Regions from separate parts of the Homo sapiens genome. Here region 1 is linked to region 2. The links come from fine-mapping of genetic effects on gene expression. A gene starts in region 2. The other region holds a variant in brackets. All regions are shown on one strand. Distances are between the middles of the regions. Region 1 overlaps SYNE3 (spectrin repeat containing nuclear envelope family member 3). Region 2 holds the start of GLRX5 (glutaredoxin 5).

Evidence for each region. PIP is the estimated chance that this variant, and not a neighbour inherited with it, causes the effect.
Region 1: its variant is fine-mapped to the expression of GLRX5 in esophagus muscle (GTEx, PIP 0.91).

Annotation. Positions count from the first base shown.
Region 1 is chr14:95,459,761-95,467,760 of GRCh38, forward strand. It overlaps SYNE3 (spectrin repeat containing nuclear envelope family member 3), which reads right to left. Exons shown (of 18, transcript NM_152592.6): 4 at 6,171-6,480. Among named protein-coding and RNA genes, the nearest start is that of SYNE3-AS1, 52 kb to the right of the region's middle. The variant C/CG (reference allele first, on the strand shown) is at 3,449.
Region 2 is chr14:95,527,787-95,540,466 of GRCh38, forward strand. It overlaps GLRX5 (glutaredoxin 5), which reads left to right and starts at 7,264. Exons shown (of 2, transcript NM_016417.3): 1 at 7,264-7,598. The coding sequence starts at 7,304. SNHG10 (small nucleolar RNA host gene 10) reads right to left here and starts at 7,086. Exons shown (of 1, transcript NR_003138.3): 1 at 5,126-7,086. It also overlaps SCARNA13. RefSeq lists enhancers at 5,694-6,483, 6,484-7,273, 6,537-6,996 and silencers at 7,137-7,426, 7,637-7,696.

The DNA.
Region 1 (8,000 bases), 70 kb before region 2:
GGAAGCCCAGGCTTAGGACCAAGCTCTTCAGTAGAGATCTGAGAAGTTCTCTCAAGGCTGGGCATGGTGGCTCGTGTCTATAATTCTAGCATTTTGGGAGGTGGAGGCAGGAGGATTGCTTGAGCCCAGGAGTTCGAGACCAGCCTGAGAAACACAGTGAGATGGCATCTCTACAAAAAATTTAAAGATTAGCTGGGTTTGTGAAGGGCGCTTGTAGTCCCAGCTACTTGGGAGGCTGAGGCAGGAGGATCGCTTGAGCCCAGGAGGTGGAGGCTGCAGTGAGCTGTGACTGCACCACTGCACTCCAGCCTACCTCACCTGACAGAACAAGACCCTGTCTCAAAACAGCAACAACAACAACAAAAATTGTTGAGCACTCCAACTGGGGTTGTGAAAAAGAGAAATAACATTGGAGGCACCATACATTCTTATTTAGAAACCTAGTTTTATTTTTTATTTTTTGAAACAGAGTCTCACTCTGTTGCCTAGACTGGAGTACAATGGCCTGATCTTGGCTCACTGTAACCTCTGCCTCCTGGGTTCAAGCGATTCTCGTGCCTCAGCCTCCCAAGTAGCTGGCATTACAGGGGTGCACCACGATGCCTAGTTTTTTTTTTTTTTTTTTTTTTTTGCTATTTTTAGAAGAGACGGGGTTTCACCATGTTGGCTAGGTTGGTCTCGAACTCCTGACCTCAAATGATCCACCTGCCTCAGCATCTCAAAGTGCTGGGATTACAGGCGTGAGCCACCATGCCCAGTCAAAAGCCTATTTTAAAGTTATAGTAACTGAAATGGCTTACAACTGGAATCAAGAAAGACAAAATTCTTACAAAACATGGGCCCTGCTTGAATCTGAAAGTGGAGCAAGCGAGGGGACAGTCCCCTTCATGCTTCCCGCCTGCAGCCCTAAGGATGGCTCCGGGGCTTCGGCAAGCTCCCCTGCTGGCTTCCCCTTCCTGCAGGGTTATTTAAATCCGTCAAAACTCTCCTGGAGCCTCCTCCATCAACAGGAAAGGCTCATTCATGAAACAAAGTGGGTCAGGAGTAACAGACAGAGGCTGGATGCTGGGCCCCTGGCCGCGCTGATGGTGATAGATGCAGCCGGGAGTGAACTCTCCCATGGAAGTGCCGGCCGTGGCTGCTAGTGTGTGAAGGATGAGGTGCTGGCACCCGGAGAAGTCCAGGGTAAATAAAAGTCTGTGTGATGGGGAGCAGGTGCTCAGAGAGGACCTCGGCAGGAGGGGCAGGGATCCAGCTGAGATCCGTGCCAGGCATAACAGTCACAGGGCAGAATCCAGCCGTGCTGGAGAATGACGGGGTGACAAACGGGAAGGTGCTCAACCTTCTCGTTAGACCCAGCAATTACACCATCTGCGGCGGGCAGAGCTGTCAGGAATGTCAAAACCTAACCAATTAACAAGGGTGGTGCGGATTTATGCCTCTGCAAAGGGCTGCACGAGCAGCTCTGATTCATCACAAGCAGCTCTGATTCACGGCCAAGATGCCAGACAGACGCGCCTTCTGTGAGGGCCGCCACGGGAAGCAGCGGGGGTGAGGATGCTTCCATGTGCCTGCCTTTGGGAAGACTAAATCGGGATTAAAAACAAACAAACAAGCCCCTCCCCGCAGCCAGCCTGCCCTGTCTACATTTCACTTGCAAACACTGCGGGCTGACAATGTGCCATTGCTCCCCTCTGGGCTTAGCCTTGGCCCTAGTCAAGAATCTCCCTCTAGCAGGTGGTCACAGAGGCTCCAGTTCAGGGAGGACCCCATGGTGCTTCTGTGGTTCCGTCCCCATCAACCCTAGAGGCTGTGCTAATTAACATGATGGACGTCAAAAATGGGTTTTCCTCGTTGGAGCAGTGGCCTGTTCTAGCATGGCAAGCAGTGGCAATGGGCTCTCATAGGTAAAAGTAGGGGCACTAACCTGAACCTAGAGACCAATCCCACCCCGAGGCCAGGCCTCGACCCCCAGGAAGGCACGAGGACAGAACCATCGCTGGAGTCAGACGACTGCCCCAAGAGAGACCTTTTATGCAGGGGAGGTCTTCATCAAGCTTTCAGAGCAGGGACTGGGAGGCTGGGACCACCAAGGATCTCTGCAGGCTGCTGGGTATGTGGAGTGCCCACCCACCTTGGGATGAGGCTAGAATCTTCCCCCTTTGTCTGGGGCTGGAGGGCTGGGGACACCCAGGAGGTCAATGCCGGGGGCTGCATCCCACCTTGCTGATGAGGAGCTTAGGATTGAGTGGTTGGATCTCTGGCCAAGGGCGATGGAGAAGTTTGCCCCGCTCAGGAGCCTCTCAGGCTTCGGAAGAACATGGCACCCTCTGGATCCACGAAAGCTCCATCCATAGAATCTGGTGGATGCTATAGCTCCTCGCCCCATAGAAATGCACACTCATACCTTCTGAATACAAGATCAAAGAGGCTGCAGGGGTCCGCGTGGCCCCTCCCCACCTACCCCTCAGTTCTCCCCATGGCCAGCTTCTAGAGAGACAGGAAACACCTCCAGGGTACACCACAGCCCTCCTGTCTAAGAGCTGACCGGGCTCCCTGTGAGTGAGAACAAAGTCCTCAAGCTTGCAGGAAGACTTCATGAGGGGCCATGGCCTTCAGCCAACAGCTGAGAAAGCCAAAACTGAATTCACTTCTCCATGCAGGGTCCAGCCACCCCACAAACAACAGCGCCCCATTTCCACATTGGCATCAGCATTGACCAGCCATCTGGCAACTCCAAGGGCTTCCACCATGGAGGGAGTCTCCCCCTCACCGCACCCCAAACCTCCCCCATCACCGCTGTCTCCGCACATGACACAGCCTTCCATGCTCCTGCCCCAGGACACTGCCAGGCGGGCCTTTGCCTCTTGAGAGCCCTGGATGCAAGGGCTCCCTCTTCAGCAGCTCAAACCTGCCTTTCACTGTCCCAGCCTGACCACAGAAGCACCCGGGGCCCCAGCTCATCCTGATGGTCACAGGTGCAGACACTAACGCAGGACCTGAGTCGCAGCTGCAGGGAGCGCCACCTTAGAAGTCATCAGCACCTCTGGCTTTTTCTACTGGGCCGCTGGTGTCTGACGCACAGAATGTTTTTTAATCTAAAAAATTAGTCCAAAAGGCCAGGTACAGTGGCTCACTTCTGTAATCCCAGCACTTCGGGAGGCCAAGGCGGATCACCTGAGGTCGGGAGTTTGAGACCAGCCTGACCAACATGGAGAGACCCCATCTCTACTAAAAAATACAAAATTAGCCGGGCATGGTGACACATGCCTGTAATGCCAGCTACTCGGGAGGCTGAGGCAGGAGAATCACTTGAACCCGGGAGGCAGAGGTTGCAGTGAGCTGAGATCATGCCATTGTACTCCAGCCTGGGCAACAAGAGTGAAACTCAGTCTCAAAATAAAAAAAAGAGTCCAATAACAACTTCTCCATCTACTTCATAAAAAGA[C/CG]TGGGGGAGCAGATGAGGTCAGAGACAGGAAAAGGTTAGAAAAAACAGCTCTCACTGATAAGAGCTGTGATGTCTATAGCGTTTTGGATTGTGTGAGGGGAGAACTCCCTGGAATGAAAATGAGGCTCTTGGAGGCAATCCTTTCAGCATCTGGGCCAGAATTGATGCTCACTCAGCACCCCAGCATCCACCCTCACGTACAAACATGCACACACACCCATGCACATACATGCAAACCTGCACACACACCAACAACTTTTTATCTCATCTCCTCCACACCCTGCACCAGGCGCTCTCTGCTGATTGGCACAAGCACCTGTTTCCTGTAAAGCCACAGCAAAGAGGCTGTGGAGCCAGGCACCTGTCCCAGCTGGGCCAGAGGGGCAGACCTGGAGAGAGAATTGCCATGAAGCCTGCCCATGCCACACGGGCCTTGGCAGGGCTGGATGAGGGCCAATTGGCTGCCTCTGCAAGAGCCAAGTCGAATCCCCGCCTTGCCCATCCATTCTGGGCCTTGCGCAGTCTCCTGGAGCCTCCTGTGGCTCCTCTCTGGGGCCCTGCGGGTTGCTTGCCTTCAAACTGCAGGGGTGGAGTTCTCATTATTTCAACAGATAGTTCTGAGCACCTGCTGCATGGCAAACAGCCATTGTTGTTCCTATTTATTCTCACTGCTACTGAGAGTAGAAGTCGTTCTTTATATTGGCAAAATGCTTGCCAGTTTTCAAAGAGCTCACATGTAACCATACAGCCCCCACAACCTGGGTGCAGGTCAGGTGAGCTGCCCTGAGGCCACACAGCTGGGAAGCAGCAGTGCCTGGCCTGGAATCCAAGTCCCTTCCCAAGCGCCAGAGCCTTGTTCCTGGTGGATTTTCTAGTTCTGCTTATCACAGAGCTTATTTCCCTTAAACTGTCAGCATGAAGAACCCAGGAGATGTTCAGTTTCAGCGCTATAGCCAACTAGAGAGCCAGAAATGCCAGATAAAATGTAACATAACAAACACCGTTTCAATGCAGACCCACGTCACACCAAGGGAAGGGATATTCCCATGGGCCAGAAGTAAAGATGCCCGGGAAACCACCCTGTTAAGCTCACACAGGTGCCTGAAGTCTTAGTTACTAGAAGCTTGGGTTTAATGCTCAGGCTGGAGTAAGAAGTGAGACTTTGGGCTCAGAGGCAACAGAGACCACTGCAAAAAGACAGAGCCTCAAGTGGCTGCCCGCCCCCACTAGCCAAAGGGTGAAGTAGAAAAAAAATATTGTTACAAACGCAATCTGAGAAGGAAATGTGCATGTTTTAGCCTGGGCCTAAAAACAAACAAACAAAAAAAACCAATCACCCTTCAGAATATGGAGTTGGGGCCTATTGTATGATTCTGGCTTGGGGTTCACGTTTAGAATATCCGCCTGATCTGGGAACCCCCAAGCCAATTCACTGACATGAAAATAGGAGTCGTGAAGATAAACCTCAGGAGGAGCCCAGCTGAAGCCAACAGAAAGCCACTCTCAGGTGGTGTCCCAGCTGCAGGCTTCTGCAGATGCATCCTGCTTAGGCTGAGCTTAGAGCTCAAAAGGACAACACCCCCCAAGGAAACAATCTACCATGTCAGGGGACACATAGGTGCCTGACGTGGAACTTCAGCCTTAGACCTGGAACCTCAGCCACTAGAAAAATCTGATGGGGACTGTAAAATACATATGTTTAGAATGATTGCAAATATAAGCTATATCTGGGAGGAATGCAAAATCTCAGGGGGAAAATGACATAATTTGTTAAAAAGAACAGGGAGACATAATACAGAACCAAATAAAATTTCTAACAAATGTAATTGAACTTGATAACTCAATGAACTGTTTCCAAATAAGGCAAGAATGGGGTGAGGAAATGCAGACAGAGAATGGACAGAGGGACTGGGGCAAGGGCAAGAGAGAGCAAGGAGGAAACACTGAAGGAGAAGGATTAAAGGGCAGGAGGAGGAAGGGAGGGGAGGAGGGAGAGAGGAAGAGAGAGAAAGGAGGAGAAGGGGGAAGCTGTTTGGATCAAAGTGAACATCACAGTCCATCAGTCAGTCGGTCAACACACCTATATGTATATTAAGCACTGCGAAACACTGGGTATCTGGACGGTAGATAATGGTGAGTGGGTGGTGGAAGAGTTGGTAGGTGAGGATTGGGGGATGGGTAGCTAGGTGGGTGGATGGCTGGATAAACGAGTGGGTGATGGTCAATAGTGGGTAGATAGGTGGTGAAGGGGTAGGCAGTGGAGAGATGGATGAGTGAATGGGTGAGTGAGGAAGAGGTGGCTGGGTTGATGGGTAGGTGAATGAGTAGATAGATGAATGCGTGGGCGATTAAGTGGTTGAAGAGATGAATAGCAGATTGATCAGGCTGGTGGGGAAGTAGATGGATGAGTGAGTCAACAGATGGGTGGGAGAATACATGGATGAACAAATGGTGGGGTAGATAGGTGAATGGGGTGGTGTGTGGGTGGATAGTGAAGGGGAGATTTGGTGATTTAGTGGGGAGGTAGATGGGTGAGTAGGTAGACAGATGGATGGGAGGGTGGTTGGATAGTGAACAGGTGAGTAGATGGATTGATAGTAGAAAGATAGATTGATAGTAGGTAAATAGCTTGATAGTAGGCAAACAGTGGCTGGAATGGGTAGATAAGGGTGGATACATGGATGGGTGGGTGAGGATGTAGCCCACTCAGCCTCACCCTCACCTGGGCCTTGGCCTTCACTGCATCGTACTCAGCCTTCATTCTCTTCTGGGCATCTTCGTCCACGCTGGGGTCCCCGATCCTGTTGAACAGGGAGGCTGCCTCCTCCAGCAGCCGGTCCAGGAGCACCGCCTGGTTGTCCACGTTGTGCAGCAGCACCTGGGCGTGGCTCAGCTGCCACTGCTTCTCCTTCAGGCCCAGCTGGAGCTCGATGTGGGGCTCCAGTGTGACCATCATCTTCTGGAACCAGCGGTAGAACTCATCTCGGGCCAGCAGGTACTCGCTCCAGTGCAGCCACACCCACTCGATGCGGCTGTGGGCACAGAGACCTCAAGGTTGTGAGGGAACCAGCCACCTGCCTCCTGGGTCGGGGGTCTGTGCTGTCACCCCCTCCCCAATACTAGGGGGCTGTGGTCTGGGGGCATGATGATGCCCTTTCTGGCCTCTGAGTCACCTGGGCAGCTTGTTGACACTCCAGATTCTAGACCCTCCCTCAGTCCTACTGGATAAGACCCTCTGCCCAGTAAATAAGCTCCCTGCGTGAGGGTAGGAGCCAGGGGAGCTCAGACTCCAAACTTCCTCCCAGAACCACCAGTTTTGGGGATGCATCTTGGGGAGCCGTTTACCTCCAGCACCTTAAATCCTGGCCCTGAACTCCCACTGTCAATGCACAGACACCCCCAGTCATTTCTCTTTGGCACTGGGGCTCTAAACACAGTTTCTCCAGGCCGCTGGCACACGCACACCCACTAATTTTAGGAGCAGACTGCGGTTGGGATGTGTCCAGTCACCTGCAGAGCACTTTGGATCTGTCTTTACTAACAGCAGGCATGGCCTAAAGCTCAAGCTCAGATCCCCAGCCTGTCTCCCTGGGGGCTGGTGGTCAGTGTCCTTAGACTGGCTTCCCAGCAGCCTGCTTGTCTCTGACCCTTCCCCATGGCTGGGGTGAAGGAGGAGCTCCTGCCATGTGGAATGCTGCCCCACTGACATCTGTGACATCTGCATCTGTGGGCTCGTTGCACCCAATGGGGACGGAAGGCTGGGAGCCTGCGTGTGCGTTCCAGGGGTGCTGTGAACTCACTCTGCAACCCTGCCTCTTCACATGCCTTAGTTTCTCCATCTCTAACATGGAGGTGGCTCTATCTCCCCAGCCAACATCAAGTCACTGTGTTAGGAATTTCCAGCGCAAGGATTTAGAAAGCAGGAAGCACTGTGCAAAGTCATTCCCATCTCCATGCACATCCTTGCTTTATAAAAATGGAGATGATCCTGGCAGCTCTTGTTTACTGAGGGCCTACTTTGTACCAAGCAGTGTGCCTCGCTCTTGATATTTGCTATCCCCTCCTAACTTCCTAACAACCTTCAAGGAGCACTTGATTACTCCCATTGTCCAGAGAGGTGCTTGAGGTTCAGCGAGGTCAGGTAACTTTCCCAAACCACATAGGAAGTAACCAGCAGGACAAGAGTCAATGCCAGGTCTGTCCGAGTGTTTGCTCCCCACCACCCCCTGTCCCGGCCAACCACCACCCAGCTTCCTGGTACAAGCAGGGACTCTGGCTACAGTGCTAGCAGGGCCCCAGGCCTTCTTTCTCCAGAGCCATTGTGCCATGCTCTGGAGGATGCACACACGGTAAGTCTCTTAGGAATTGTTGACAAAACACGCTGGGTTCCCAGTGTCTATTATCATCATTCAACCTGATTATAATTAGAAAGAGGCAGGCAGGGCTGGCCCTAATCCCAAGAGAATATCCTGTCCCCCAGAATCCCAGGACTGGAGAAATGTCTCTTGGGCAGAGGGCCCAAGCTAGTGTCACAGTGGGCAAGGAGGGTAAA
Region 2 (12,680 bases):
AACCAACGGGAATATCCCATTGATTTCACATCGACTAGACTGGCATGTCCCCTCAAGGCTGCACTCATACAGCTATGATATGAAAATGCCAGATCACCGTCTATCTGGAGAGGGAAGAAGGTTTGCCAATATAACAGCTTCTCCTCAAGTCACCCAATTTTGCCTATGTAATAAAGCTTATGCAAAAAAAACTCCTTTTTTTTTAAACAAAATGTAATTGTTTTATGATAGTCTTTTTTTTTTTTTTTAAGATGAACTTTTGCTCTTGTTGCCCAGGCTGGAGTGCAATGGCGTGATCTTGGCTCACTGCAACCTCTGCCTCCTGGGTTCAAGTGATTCTCCGGCCTCAGCCTCCTCAGTAGCTTGGATTACAGGCACCCGCCACCACGCCCGGCTAATTTTTTGTATTTTTAGTAGAGATGGGGTTTCACCATGTTGGCCAGGCTGGTCTCAAATTCCTGACCTCAGGTGATCCATCTGCCTCGGCCTCCCAAAGTGCTGGGATTACAGGCATGAGCCACCACACCCAGTCTTTTGATAGTCTTTTATTAAAACTCTTTGAAACTGTGGCTCACTAAAATTTGATATCAATGAACAATATCTCACTAGGATACCCTTTCAAAAAATATTAAGTTTAGAATTAGCAAATAGGATTTTTCTGGCTGTAAAAGGAGAACAAAAAAATTTAAAATCCTCCATTTTTTTTTGCCAGCAAAGGAAAATGAATAATTAATGCCTCATCCCATTTCTAACTTGAATCATCCCTCCCCTCCCTGCAATTAAACTGGGGTGAATTTCTTTTTTGCTAGATGAACTGTTTTCTATTTATTTGTTTATTTCTGAGACAGAGTCTTGCTCTGTCGCCCAGGCTGGAGTGCAGTGGTGCGATCTTGACTCACTGCAACCTCCACCTCCTGGGCTCAAGCAATTTTCCTGCCTCAGCCTCCCAAGTAGCTAGGACTACAGGCACCCACCACCATGCTCGCCTAATTTTGCATTTTTAGTAGAGCCGGGGTTTCACCATGTTGGCCAGGCTGGTCTCGAACTCCTGACCTCAGGTGATCCACCCGCCTCGGTCTCCCAAAGTGCTGGGATTACAGGCATGAGCCACTGCGCCAGGCCTAGATGAACGATTGAAGAAGGCTGGAGCAATGGGTTCCCACAATAGCAAGACTGCATTTTGAAGGCATGAAATTATTAAAGCTCAAAGACTGAAGTACAAAGTGAAATTCTGACTCATGATAAAGTGTATTTATGGCCTTGGCAATACATCTTAGCAATTATTCAAAAGAAAACAATTAAATTTCCTAAATGTTCTTCTGGCTGCAAACTCAGTGACTATCAGAGGGAGACATAAACTTCTGCTAACAGATAAATCTTCCTAACAGGTTGGATACACAACAGCACTGCCTCCTTACTCTTTCTATTCTGCGATCTAGGGACCTTTTCAGGTCTCTGGAATGTAATAATTTGAGTTATAGAAACTATCTGCTGGTTAAAAAAAAAAGAAACACATAATACTACAAAACACTGCCATTAAACAGGCAGTTGGGGAAAATAAACAATTCTTTCATCACCTTTAACCAAAAGGCTTAACAAGTTTTACGATTACCACTTAATTCTCAATACCACTTTCCGGGAGATATGATTCAGGCCCATGTCCTTGTTATTAAATAAGGCTTGCAACAGAATGAAATCCAACAGGTGTATGACTTTCAAGGCACGCAGCCGAGGAGCTTGGCCCTCAATGCGAGAAAGCAGCGTGGGGACAAGAGGAACATAGCTTTCAGAAACAGCAGGCTATAGGCTTAGATTTTTTTTTATTAGATTTTTGGTTTTCTGTGTGTTTGTCTGTTTTTTTGAGTTGGAGTCTCGCTCTGTTGCCCAGGCTGGAGTATGCAGTGAAGTGGCGAGATCTCAGCTCACTGCAACCTCCGCCTCCTGGGTTACAGCAATTCTCCTGCCTCAGTCTCCAAGCAGCTGGGATTACAGGTGCCCGCTACCACGTCCGGCTAATTTTTTGTATTTTTAGTAGAGATGGGGTTTCGCCATGTTGGCCAGGCTGGTCTTGAACTCCTGACCTTAGGTGATCTGCCCGCCTTGGCCTTCCAAAGTGCTGGGATTACAGATGTGAGCCACCACGTCCAGCTATTAGATCTCTGGATTGAACTTTTGTCATTTTAATTTACAAAGCCCAAAAATCATCTGTGTATCTAGTATATATGCAGAGCCAGCAAAGATAACTGGGATAGTTGATTTTCTACAGGACTTGTTGGTGATGCTATGAATCAGCAGGAAAACAGAAATTGCATGTGAAGGCAACAAAACTTAGAGACACAAGTGCTAATGTCTATCAACATATTATATTAGAAAAAAACATAATTTGGAGACCAAAATGTCTGAGAACTGTTATCCTAGGGTTAATGTATGCTTCGAATGAATTCATGTATACACACAAAAATTTAACAAAAAAGTACAATCTATGCAAGATGATAACATTTGGGGGTAAATATTTATGAGCAGAGAAAGTACACACAGATTTCTTACAACGCTGCAGCCTTTATATGAAGAAATTCTTCAATTATATACAAACTTCGGCAGACATCAATTTGGATTTTTCCAAAATCCAGAAAGGGGAAAATAGATGTGGAAAAATCTGAGGAAAATCAAAAAGAACTCAAGTACTCAGCGACGTTTAAGACCAGAACCCAGGACTACACCTCCACCCAAATTCCAGGACAAAACTGGGTTGTCATGGCATCTGGGCTTTTCATAAATGCTCACCTATCTCCCACGGTCTATTCTAGACTGAACTAACCAGATCTACAGCATGCCCTTTCTCTTCAGTGACCCAGTGACTCAGGGCAGGTGAAGGGAGCAGGACTTGTGTGACACAGTGGAGGCTGGCCTGCCTTCCTGTCTCCAAGATGTGGGCGGCAGGGATGAGCAAAGCCTCGGCCAAAGAAGTATTAATAAACCAGCTGCCTTGTCAGATAGAGGTAGTCGAAATCCAACAAGCATTTCTATCTCCACAATAGGGACTAGAAAAATTCTGAGGGCTGCATTTTGCTTCAGTTTCTTATACATTACATTATTTTTGGTGTTATCAGGGAATCCAGGTAGTTCCAGGGTTGCAGTGATGCTCTAAAACTACTAGATGATAGCTCAGTGCATCACAGAGGAAGCTTTCAGGTTCCAGCTCAGGTCAATAGAATCTGCTATTTTAGCTTAGGAATGCGTGGTGGTTCGGCCCCTTGTACAATCCAAGCAGCCATTTTGCCCTTAATATGACATTTGCAGAATGTTCTGGCCAGCTCAGATAGACACTTCTGTACCACACGTTCTCATGCAAACACACCCTCTCATTTTCTAAGAACAAACAAGAATGCAGCACTGAGCATAAAATGAACAGGGCCAGTGCGGCGGCTCACACCTGTAACCCTAGCACTTTGGGAGGGCAAGGCGGGAGGAGTATTCGAGACCAGGTGTTGGAGACCAGTCTGGGCAACCTACTGAGACCTCATCTTTTTAAAAAATAATTTTTTAAAAAAGTAAAGGTACAGAAACACTGACATGTGGAGTGCTCAGATAAAGCATCACCTTCAGTTCAATAATCTGAACTCTAGTTCTTCATTTGGGGCTGATAAACGGAAGAAGCTATCTCAGATATGTGGAGGTTTACACGATGAATTCAATGGCGAATTTGTTTTTGGAGAAGTGGATAGAAAACAGGAGTTCTACCAAATATAGTAAAGCCTTATCTATAAATAAACACAAGGAAGAAAAACATTTTTAGGATGCCTGAGTCAGCATGTTTACACGGCATGATTATTTAGTTTGGGGTTTAACCAATCCTGTGACTCAAATCCCAGGATTCTCAGAAGTTCCTGAGTACTTCCCACCCTCACCTCTTCACTAATGTTCACGAGGCAGGAAGCCATCACATGCTAAGACAGGCCATTTACTCAAAACACCCAAAACATCTGGTCATAGATGCAGACTGATGACAACTGTTTATTTAAGATGTATATTTTGTCATGTTTTCATCATAGGACTAAAGAGGAATCTCAAAACCAAAATGCCAAACTTTATGCAAAAGTCTGATACTTTGGACGAAGTATTTTGAATACTGTTTTCTTTGCTTCTTAAGATCACTGATGTTTGGTGCTAAGTATTTCACTATATTTTGGGTTGTTTTATTAAAAATTTAAATTTAGATGTATTGTTTCAATTTCTTTGGTTCAGATACATGATCTGTTTCCTGCCCTTGCTCATGCTATCAAAATAGCTCCTTGAAAGAGCACCAACATGCTTTTCCATATCCTTAGCATTTCACACACTGTATGTTCTTATCATATTCTACAAAAACACGGCAACTTCACTATGATTTAGCAAAACACAGGCTTTGTACTCTTCCTTCTCAAGGATTACTCTTAATCTTTAATGGCAGCTGCATTCTCAACTTAATACAACGTTCAACAAATAAAAAAGACAACTGCTTCTGAGCCCAATATTATACATTAGGTAAGGAACACGATACTCCTCATTACTGTTCTGTCTCAGGATATAAGTTTGCAAATTCTTCTCCTGATCTCAGTCAACATAAAAGCAGAATTACAGTTTAGAGTGGGCAATGAGAAAGGTGGAATCAAAATAGACACAGGGAAGGCCATAAAGAGTTCGCAAGCATAAATGCCTGATAGCAAAAACGATCACAGAAGATTCCAAAACCACAATCCTGCACAAAGGCCATCTCAATCTTACACAAAAAATACTTCTGCAATGCCTGCCGAGCACCTGCCTGTCCAACCTGGGACTGGTGTCACCTTTGTTACTGATCCTTGTAGTCAAAAATAATTATCTCAAAACAATTATGTAACCCTCCTCATTTTTCCTTTAAAGACCTTTGTCTTCCTCTATCTCCCAGGATACACACAGTTAACTATCGCATGCATTTTCTCATTGCAGTGCTCTATTCCTGAATAAATGCCATTTTCTTTTAGAGAGCCTCTCTCTGTTCGTTATTTAAGTTGACAGCAACAAACAGTTTAGGTTTTTGGCAACAAATCACCAATATTTACTTAAAAACAAACAAAACACTTACAACACAGGTAGGAACAACAGGTTATTTTGGAAAGAGTTTAATATATTCTCTATTGTTAAGTGCACCAGATGCTGGACTTCTGAAACAACAATTATGCTTCTGCATAATAGCTTTTTCTACATATTTCTGTTCATGTTGCTTGTTCCTCTGATTTACCTGGAATCAATGAATCTGAAAAACAAAAAGATTCTTTAAGCACCTGGTAAATTTCAGGTCCCACATTAGAAAATGAGCAATCATCAATAATATTGATGGGGGTGAAAATATGACATTGAGACTTTCGGGTAATGTGCCGAGTTTACTTTCATAGTTTACTAGGCTCAGGTTTCATGCCGAAGGATTATTTGAAAGACTCACTCACTGACATGATTTTCTGATTTTAAATTCGAACACTCTCAAAGCATAAACAGATCACCTCCAGCAACATTGTAAAAAAATACTCAAAGTTTAAAAAAAAAAAAGTAACTTGTGGCAGTACTTAGTGTTCAACAGAAAACACTCCATCTGCTAAACAATATCTCGACTGCAAAGCTTCTCTTACTGTTGGCGGATAGATAATGACATAGCCCAGTCATTATCACCGTGGCAACAGTGACCAGAAACTATCAGAGGAAAATTGCACATGGAACAGCTGGCTCTCGAGCAGGCATGCCTCAGCTTCCTCTGGAGTATGCTTTTTCTGCAAGTCTGGTGTGCTCGAGGGTACCACCAACCCTGTGCGGCTCCAAGACTACAGATTATGTAGCAAGTCCACTGGTCCTGCTCTTCCGGATTTATTCTTCCCGCCAATAGGAGCACTTACCACGTTCCAAGCATCGTCCTAGGCACTGAGGATACAGCAGTGAATAAAACTGAGTGCTGGGTAGGAAGTCAATAACCAAGCTAGTAAATAACTGTATATTGTCAAGCACTGGTAAGTACAAGGGAGAGCAGAGCAAGCAATGGGCCTGATGAGGCTTGCTTTGTCTCCTCTGCACTCCCACACTGCTTTGTATCTGCTTCTCATTTCTCACGATGGGTCCAAGCTTTGGGCACCAGGTCTCCCTGGACATTCCGCGCTGGCACTGCGCCTAGCACCCAGCGGCTGCTCAGGAAACGTTTGTCGAACGAACGAATTCACTTCTTAGTTCCCCATTCAACAAACCTTTCCTGATCCTAGGCCCAACAGGTTAAAAGGCTGGAGGGCCAACGAGGCTGGAAACTCAGAGGCGGCCGGGGGCGGTGGCTCACGCCTGTAATCCCAGCACTTTAAGAGGCCGAGGCAGGAGGATCCCTTGAAGCCAGGAGTTCGAGACCAGCCTGGGCAAAAAAGTGAGACATCGACCCCCCGCCCCCGCCGCCAATTCCGTCTCTACAAAAAGGAAGAAAAAAAAAAAAAACCCAGAGGAAATCACACAGGCAAAAGCGCTTTACAAATTTTAAAAATGAAAACTGTTCTAGAGAAATAATCGCGCGCCGGAGGCGGAAGCCCCAGAGCCTCAGCTCCCACGTGGCGGCGGAGCCAGGGAAAGTCCAGGAGCCAAGGCTACGGCCCGAGCGCTGGAACCCCGGTCAGGCTCCGGCTCCCCGCCACGACGAACTGCATGCGGCCGCGGCGCTCCGGAGGCGCCCGGGGACGCTCACCTAAGCTGGGAGAGGCGGATACCCGCCCGGCCTAGCCCCGCTACCTCCCAAGAGACCAACACGACAAGCGCGCGCCCACCGCATTGCCATGGCAATTCAACCGCCGCTGACACCGGAACCGGAAACTTCATCAGGAGGTGACCCCTTCCCGGCGTTCCGCGGAACGGGCGAGTCCCGCGCCTCTCCCAGTTGTCTCGGCGTAGTCCAGCTGGCCTCATTGGCTCACAGGAGGAAAGTCGTCTTCCCTCTTGTTTTGCCTCTCGTTGCCCTGCAAGCGTGACCCTGATGGACATCCAGTCTCTCCAATTAACTAACAAAGCGGTTGCCGACGACCAATAGTAAGGCAGTAGGATGAGGCTCCGGCATAAGGCCCACCTCCTACCTGCCGGGCGGGACGAGCAACATGATTGGTGGAATCGAGTAATTACTGATCAGTATTGTCCAATCACGGAGGGCAGTTTAGAGCCGGCCCAATGAGGGCCTCCAGGGGGCGGGTCGGACTGCCGCGGGCCGGGGAGCGCTCTGGGTGGCCAGCTGTGGGCCCGGGCCGTCGTGGGCTCCGGCTTGCGTGCGGAGATGAGCGGGTCCCTCGGCCGAGCTGCGGCGGCTCTGCTCCGCTGGGGGCGCGGCGCGGGCGGCGGTGGCCTTTGGGGTCCGGGCGTGCGGGCGGCGGGCTCGGGCGCGGGCGGCGGCGGCTCGGCGGAGCAGTTGGACGCGCTGGTGAAGAAGGACAAGGTGGTGGTCTTCCTCAAGGGGACGCCGGAGCAGCCCCAGTGCGGCTTCAGCAACGCCGTGGTGCAGATCCTGCGGCTGCACGGCGTCCGCGATTACGCGGCCTACAACGTGCTGGACGACCCGGAGCTCCGACAAGGTCAGGCCAGTGTGCCGGGCAGGCGCCCTCCGCCCCGGGCCCAGGAGCATCGCTGCACGAGGCCGAGGGGTTCCGCCGCGCCGGGCTGGGGAGCGGGGCTCCATCCGCCGGGGTCTGTCTGAAGGTTCGAGCCGGGTTAGGGCGAGGAGTACTGCCCTGGAGTAGAGTCTGGGCTGAGGGTGTAGTTGATTTCACTGGGTCTTGAGGATCTGGGGCTCTGTACTGTTGCCAACTTGAGCAGTAGGTAAAGTCCTAAAGGTTCACTTATCCTCACTTCGAGCTAATATAGGCGTTTCGGGGCGATTTGTCAATGACTGACTCGGAGGAGGGTGGCCCGCTGCCTGACTGCTCTGCACGGTTAGGAAACTCATAGTAAGGACCCACTGTGAGATAGGTACTTTCGCGGACACTTTGGGGAGGTTGGAAGCCATTGGCCTACTCGTGGGTAAGGTCTAGGGCTGTCGATGGTGGGGAGAGGGCTGAGGTTGCCCTTGAGGCTAGTGAGGTCGGAGGCTGATCTCGCTTGGCTCACGGCTCAGGGTGTCAAGCATCATCCTCTGTGGTTGCTACAAGCAAAGGGTTGGGACAGCTGTCGGCTGACCTTAGTCGGGATCTATGTTGTCGGGGAAGAGTCATGACATTTGGCTTTAGATACTCAAGCACAGGGCTGAATTTATGTGGGCCAGGGCTTGGAGAGGTTTGTGGGGAAAAGAAGCAGCCCTGGCTCCTGGGCCCTGGGCTAACTCACTGGCTCAGCCTTGGAGCCCAGGGGGCCAGGGCACCAGGGACCAGATGGATTAGGCCGGGAGAGGGAAGGCTGCAGCTAATAAGCATCTTTTCCAAGTACTCCACGTGCATTCGCCAGTCTTATCTGAGTAGGGGAGGAGGAAGAGGCCAGGCACAAGGGCCTGCTCCTTGGCCAGGATGGTCAGGGTTGGTGGAAAACTGGGAAGGCTGTACCTTTTCCTTCTAGAGAGTGACTTAGGATACCTGCATCCCAGTTAGAGACTTTCAGTGACTGAGTCCCTGCATGTCCCTAGCTAAAAAGAGGTGCCAGTTGTGTGCTAAAAATAGGTGCCAGGTTCTCTGTTACTCTAAATTCGAAATTACTAATCATAGTCATTGCTTACAATGATGAGACAGGCTGGTGTTTGGAAAAGCTTTGGGTTGACATCCTCTTCTGTGGCTAATCAGGTGTAAAACTTAAGTCACTCACCTGCATTTGAGGATAATGAGACAATTTGGCAAAGTTTGTGTTAGGAAGCCAAAGTAAAAATTATAGAAAGTGTGTATTATTTTACCTGGCACAGAAAGCACCCGGTAAATGGTAGCTGGCTTCGTATTAGCACTTGATGGTTTTCAAATGTATTTTTTCCCAGATTATCTAGTCCTTAAAGACTCTTGGGGATAACTGATCCTCCATTTGCTGTAGGTGATAGTGGTGGTGGGTGGGACCTAGAAAGCATGTTGAGTTGAGGAGTCGAGAGGGCAGGTTCAAATTACCACGTATATGTAATATTACCATGTGTTATTCTCATGACCCTTTTGTCTTCCTTGTCAACTAGTATGCCACCAGTTACTGGGCTCAGTTTTATCATGTGCAAGGCAAGGGACCTGCAGTCTTCCTTCGAAGACAGCTTCTCTGCTTAAAAGAGGAGTAACTATTTTGCAGTCTTTTGACAGAGACCTTGCAGGGAGTCCCCTGCAAATTGCCAATATGGCACTAGTAAAAAAGTGGTGTTGTTATCTCGCTTAGTATCATGTTTCGAGGGTCTTTGGTTTGTGAATTTATTTTCTCTTGTTTAATATAACTGGAAATGAGATATGCTGGAATATAGCTAGTAAACGGAAAATAGGAGCAAAAATACGAATATGTACTGATAACATTTTATTTTTCTGTCTTTTATCCACGTCTGGTGTCTGGTTTCTGAGCTTACTTTCTTAAGTTTTCAAACAGCAGCGACAGGAATTTAACCCTTACATTCCTTGACCACTGAGTTTCATCAGATTGCTATTTTGGTTAATAAACGCGTTGCATATATATTGAATATAACATACCTCTTTTATTGATTAGAAAAGTAAAGATTAGTAAGTATTAACATTTGGACTGGGCAGGGTGGTAAAAGCACGTTCCCCAAATGGGGATTAGTTCAGCCAGGTTATTAAGACTCTTCCCCTCTTCCCTATACAGCTTTATTTACCAAGAGCAACTAACGGGCTGTCCGATGCTTGCTTTTGCCAGCCGAAACTATGTTTGTACACCAGATCCAAGGTCATTTCTAGTAATAGGAACGGAGCTCTTGCAAAACTGGCCTTTTGTTGGTTCTTATGCCAAGGAGACCTGAACTTTACAAAGTGCCTAAACCGGAGGAAAACATTCTTTCCTAGTTTTGAGTACTGGGTTCCCAGGAGTGTGATACAGACACATCTTGAGACTGTGACCCAAGGAACAAAGGTGACTATGAGGCAGCATTGTGTTCTGGCCTTCTCAAGACCTTCTTGTCCTTCTCTTTTTATCTGGAGTGCACACAGAAGACAGTCACAAAGGGATCAGGTCCCAGTAGACTGACATCATCATTTCCTAATCCTGGTCTTAATAAAGGAACTTATGCTCATGGAAGCAATGTAGAAAACACTGAAAAGTTTAAAGAAGGAAAATCACCTGTAATTTATGGAAACTATTGTATTAACATTTAGATCTAGTTCCTAACAGTTTTTTTTTTTTTAACACATTGAGACCATGCTTGTCTATACATAGTATTTTGCCCTCCAGAGACGAGGGAATATGTCTTATGCCACTGCCTGTGGTGCTGTGTGTACCGCTTATGCAAAGCAAGCTTTCAGTGAGCATTTTAATAAATAAATAAATACTGCTTTTATTTATCATTATATTGCAAACTCTGCGGCCTTAAAGGCATTATAAACATTTGCTGCCGATTTAGATCATCATTGTAGTCCTTGCATCTGGAACAGTGACAGAATAGGGACTCAAATGATTTGTTGAATAAATAACCATATCCTGTTGTTGAATGTTTATTAAGCATTTGAAAATACGCTCCACCTTTTCAGTATCAGGGAATTGAAGACAGTAGTGAAACATGTCATGCTGGTGAACCTTAAAAGTTGGATAACAAGTTGTGTGTATGTGCTTGTGTGGTGCACATGTATGCTGCAGATGGGAGTATAAAATGGTACCAACACTTTGGAGGAGTAACTATCAGTACCCAGTCAAGCTATGGGTGAACAGAGCCTAAGACCCAGCTGCGTGACTCCTAGGTATATATTCTAGAGAGGGGGATCTGCAAACTTACCCTAGTAAAGGGCCAGAGACTAAGTACGTCAGGCTTTGTGGGCTGTGTGGTTTTTGTTGCATCTATTCAACTCTGCTGTTATATAGCCTGAAGTCAGTCATGGGCAATATGTAGATGAATGAGCAGGCTGAGTTTCAATAAAACTTTATTTATGAAAATACAGCTTTAATTACGAAGTAGACTGGATTTGGCCTGAAGACCATAGTTTATCTGTCCCTGGCCTAGAGACTGACTTCTGCATGTGTGTGTTAGGACATGGGTCCCCAACCCCCAGGCCAGGGATCGAGGACTTACAGCAGGAGGTAAGCGGTGGGTAAGTGAGCTTTACCGCCTGAGCTCCGCCTCCTGCCACATCAGTGACGACATTAGGTTCTCATAGGAGCACAAACTCTATTGTGAACTGCACATGTGAGGAATCTAGGTTGTGCGTTCCTTACGAGAATGTAACTAATGCCTGATGATGTGAGGTGGAACCGTTTCATCCCGAAGCTATCCCCACCCTTCCCTGGTCCGTGGAAAAATTGTCTTCCACAAAACCAGTCCCTGGTGCCAAAAAGGTTGGGGACCTCTGTGTTAGGATACCTGTGTTGGCGCGTTCATTGCAGCATGGCTTGCAATAATGAAAAACTGACAGGAAGGGATCTTGGTCTATTAGCAGCAGACCAGATAAATAAACTTTAGTCACATGATGGAAAGCTAAACTGTAGTTAAAATGAACTAGATCTAGATGTATTTAACATGGCTGAATCTCAAAAATACAATATTTAGTCAAAAAGCAAGTTGCAAACACGTAATTATGGCATAATACCATTTGTATATGTAAATGTTAAAGGCATAAAACAGTCCCATATATTGCAGATATGTGTGCAGTGCACTTGTAGCTCCTGGGCAGGAGTGAGATGGCAGCTAGAGGGTAGAGGCCACCTCTGGTGAGGGACTCAGGTAGCATGTGGTTAAGAGTCTGGGCTTTTGTACTCCTGGAAGCCTGGATATAAATCCTGGTTTCACTGCGCTGTCACTGTGAGTTTCGGTAAGTTACTTAACCCTTCTGAGCCTTAGTTTCTTCATCTTATGTAAAGTAGGGATAATTGTACCTGCCTTGTCAGATTTTTGTAAAGATTAAATAAGATTATTTTTGTAAAACGCTTAAAGAGTATGAAACTCAGTAATCCTTAACTCAATAAATGGTATATATATATATATTTTTTTTTTTTTGAGAGAGTGTTACTCTGCTGCCTAGGCTGAAGTGCAGGGGGCAATCTCGGCTCACTGCCACCCCTGCCTCCCGGGTTCAAGCGATTCTCCTGCCTCAGCCTCCCAAGGAGCTGGGATTGCAGGCACCTGGCACCATGCCTGGCTAATTTTTTTTATTTTTAGTAGGGACAGGGTTTCACCATGTTGGCCAGGCTGGTCTTGAACTCCTGACCTCAGGTGATGCACCAGCCTTGGCCTCCCAAAGTGCTGGGATTACAGGTGTGAGCCACCGCACCTGGCCTGAATGGCGTTTTCATTACTTTAGGGTATACTTAATCACTTTTTCCTGCTTTATTTTCCTATGCTTTTTCTGTTGCCTTTCTCAGAAAAGCATTACTGTGAAGGGTGGGTGGTGGAGCATGTTGGTATGGAGAGAATGTCCACACTGTACCTGGTACTATGCTGGGAGCTCAATTCATTTCATTCCTTAGATATCATGGAATCTTCATAATATGTGAGGCGTAGAGTATATTCCCATTTTACAGATGAGGAAACTGAGGCTAAAAGATTAACAGAT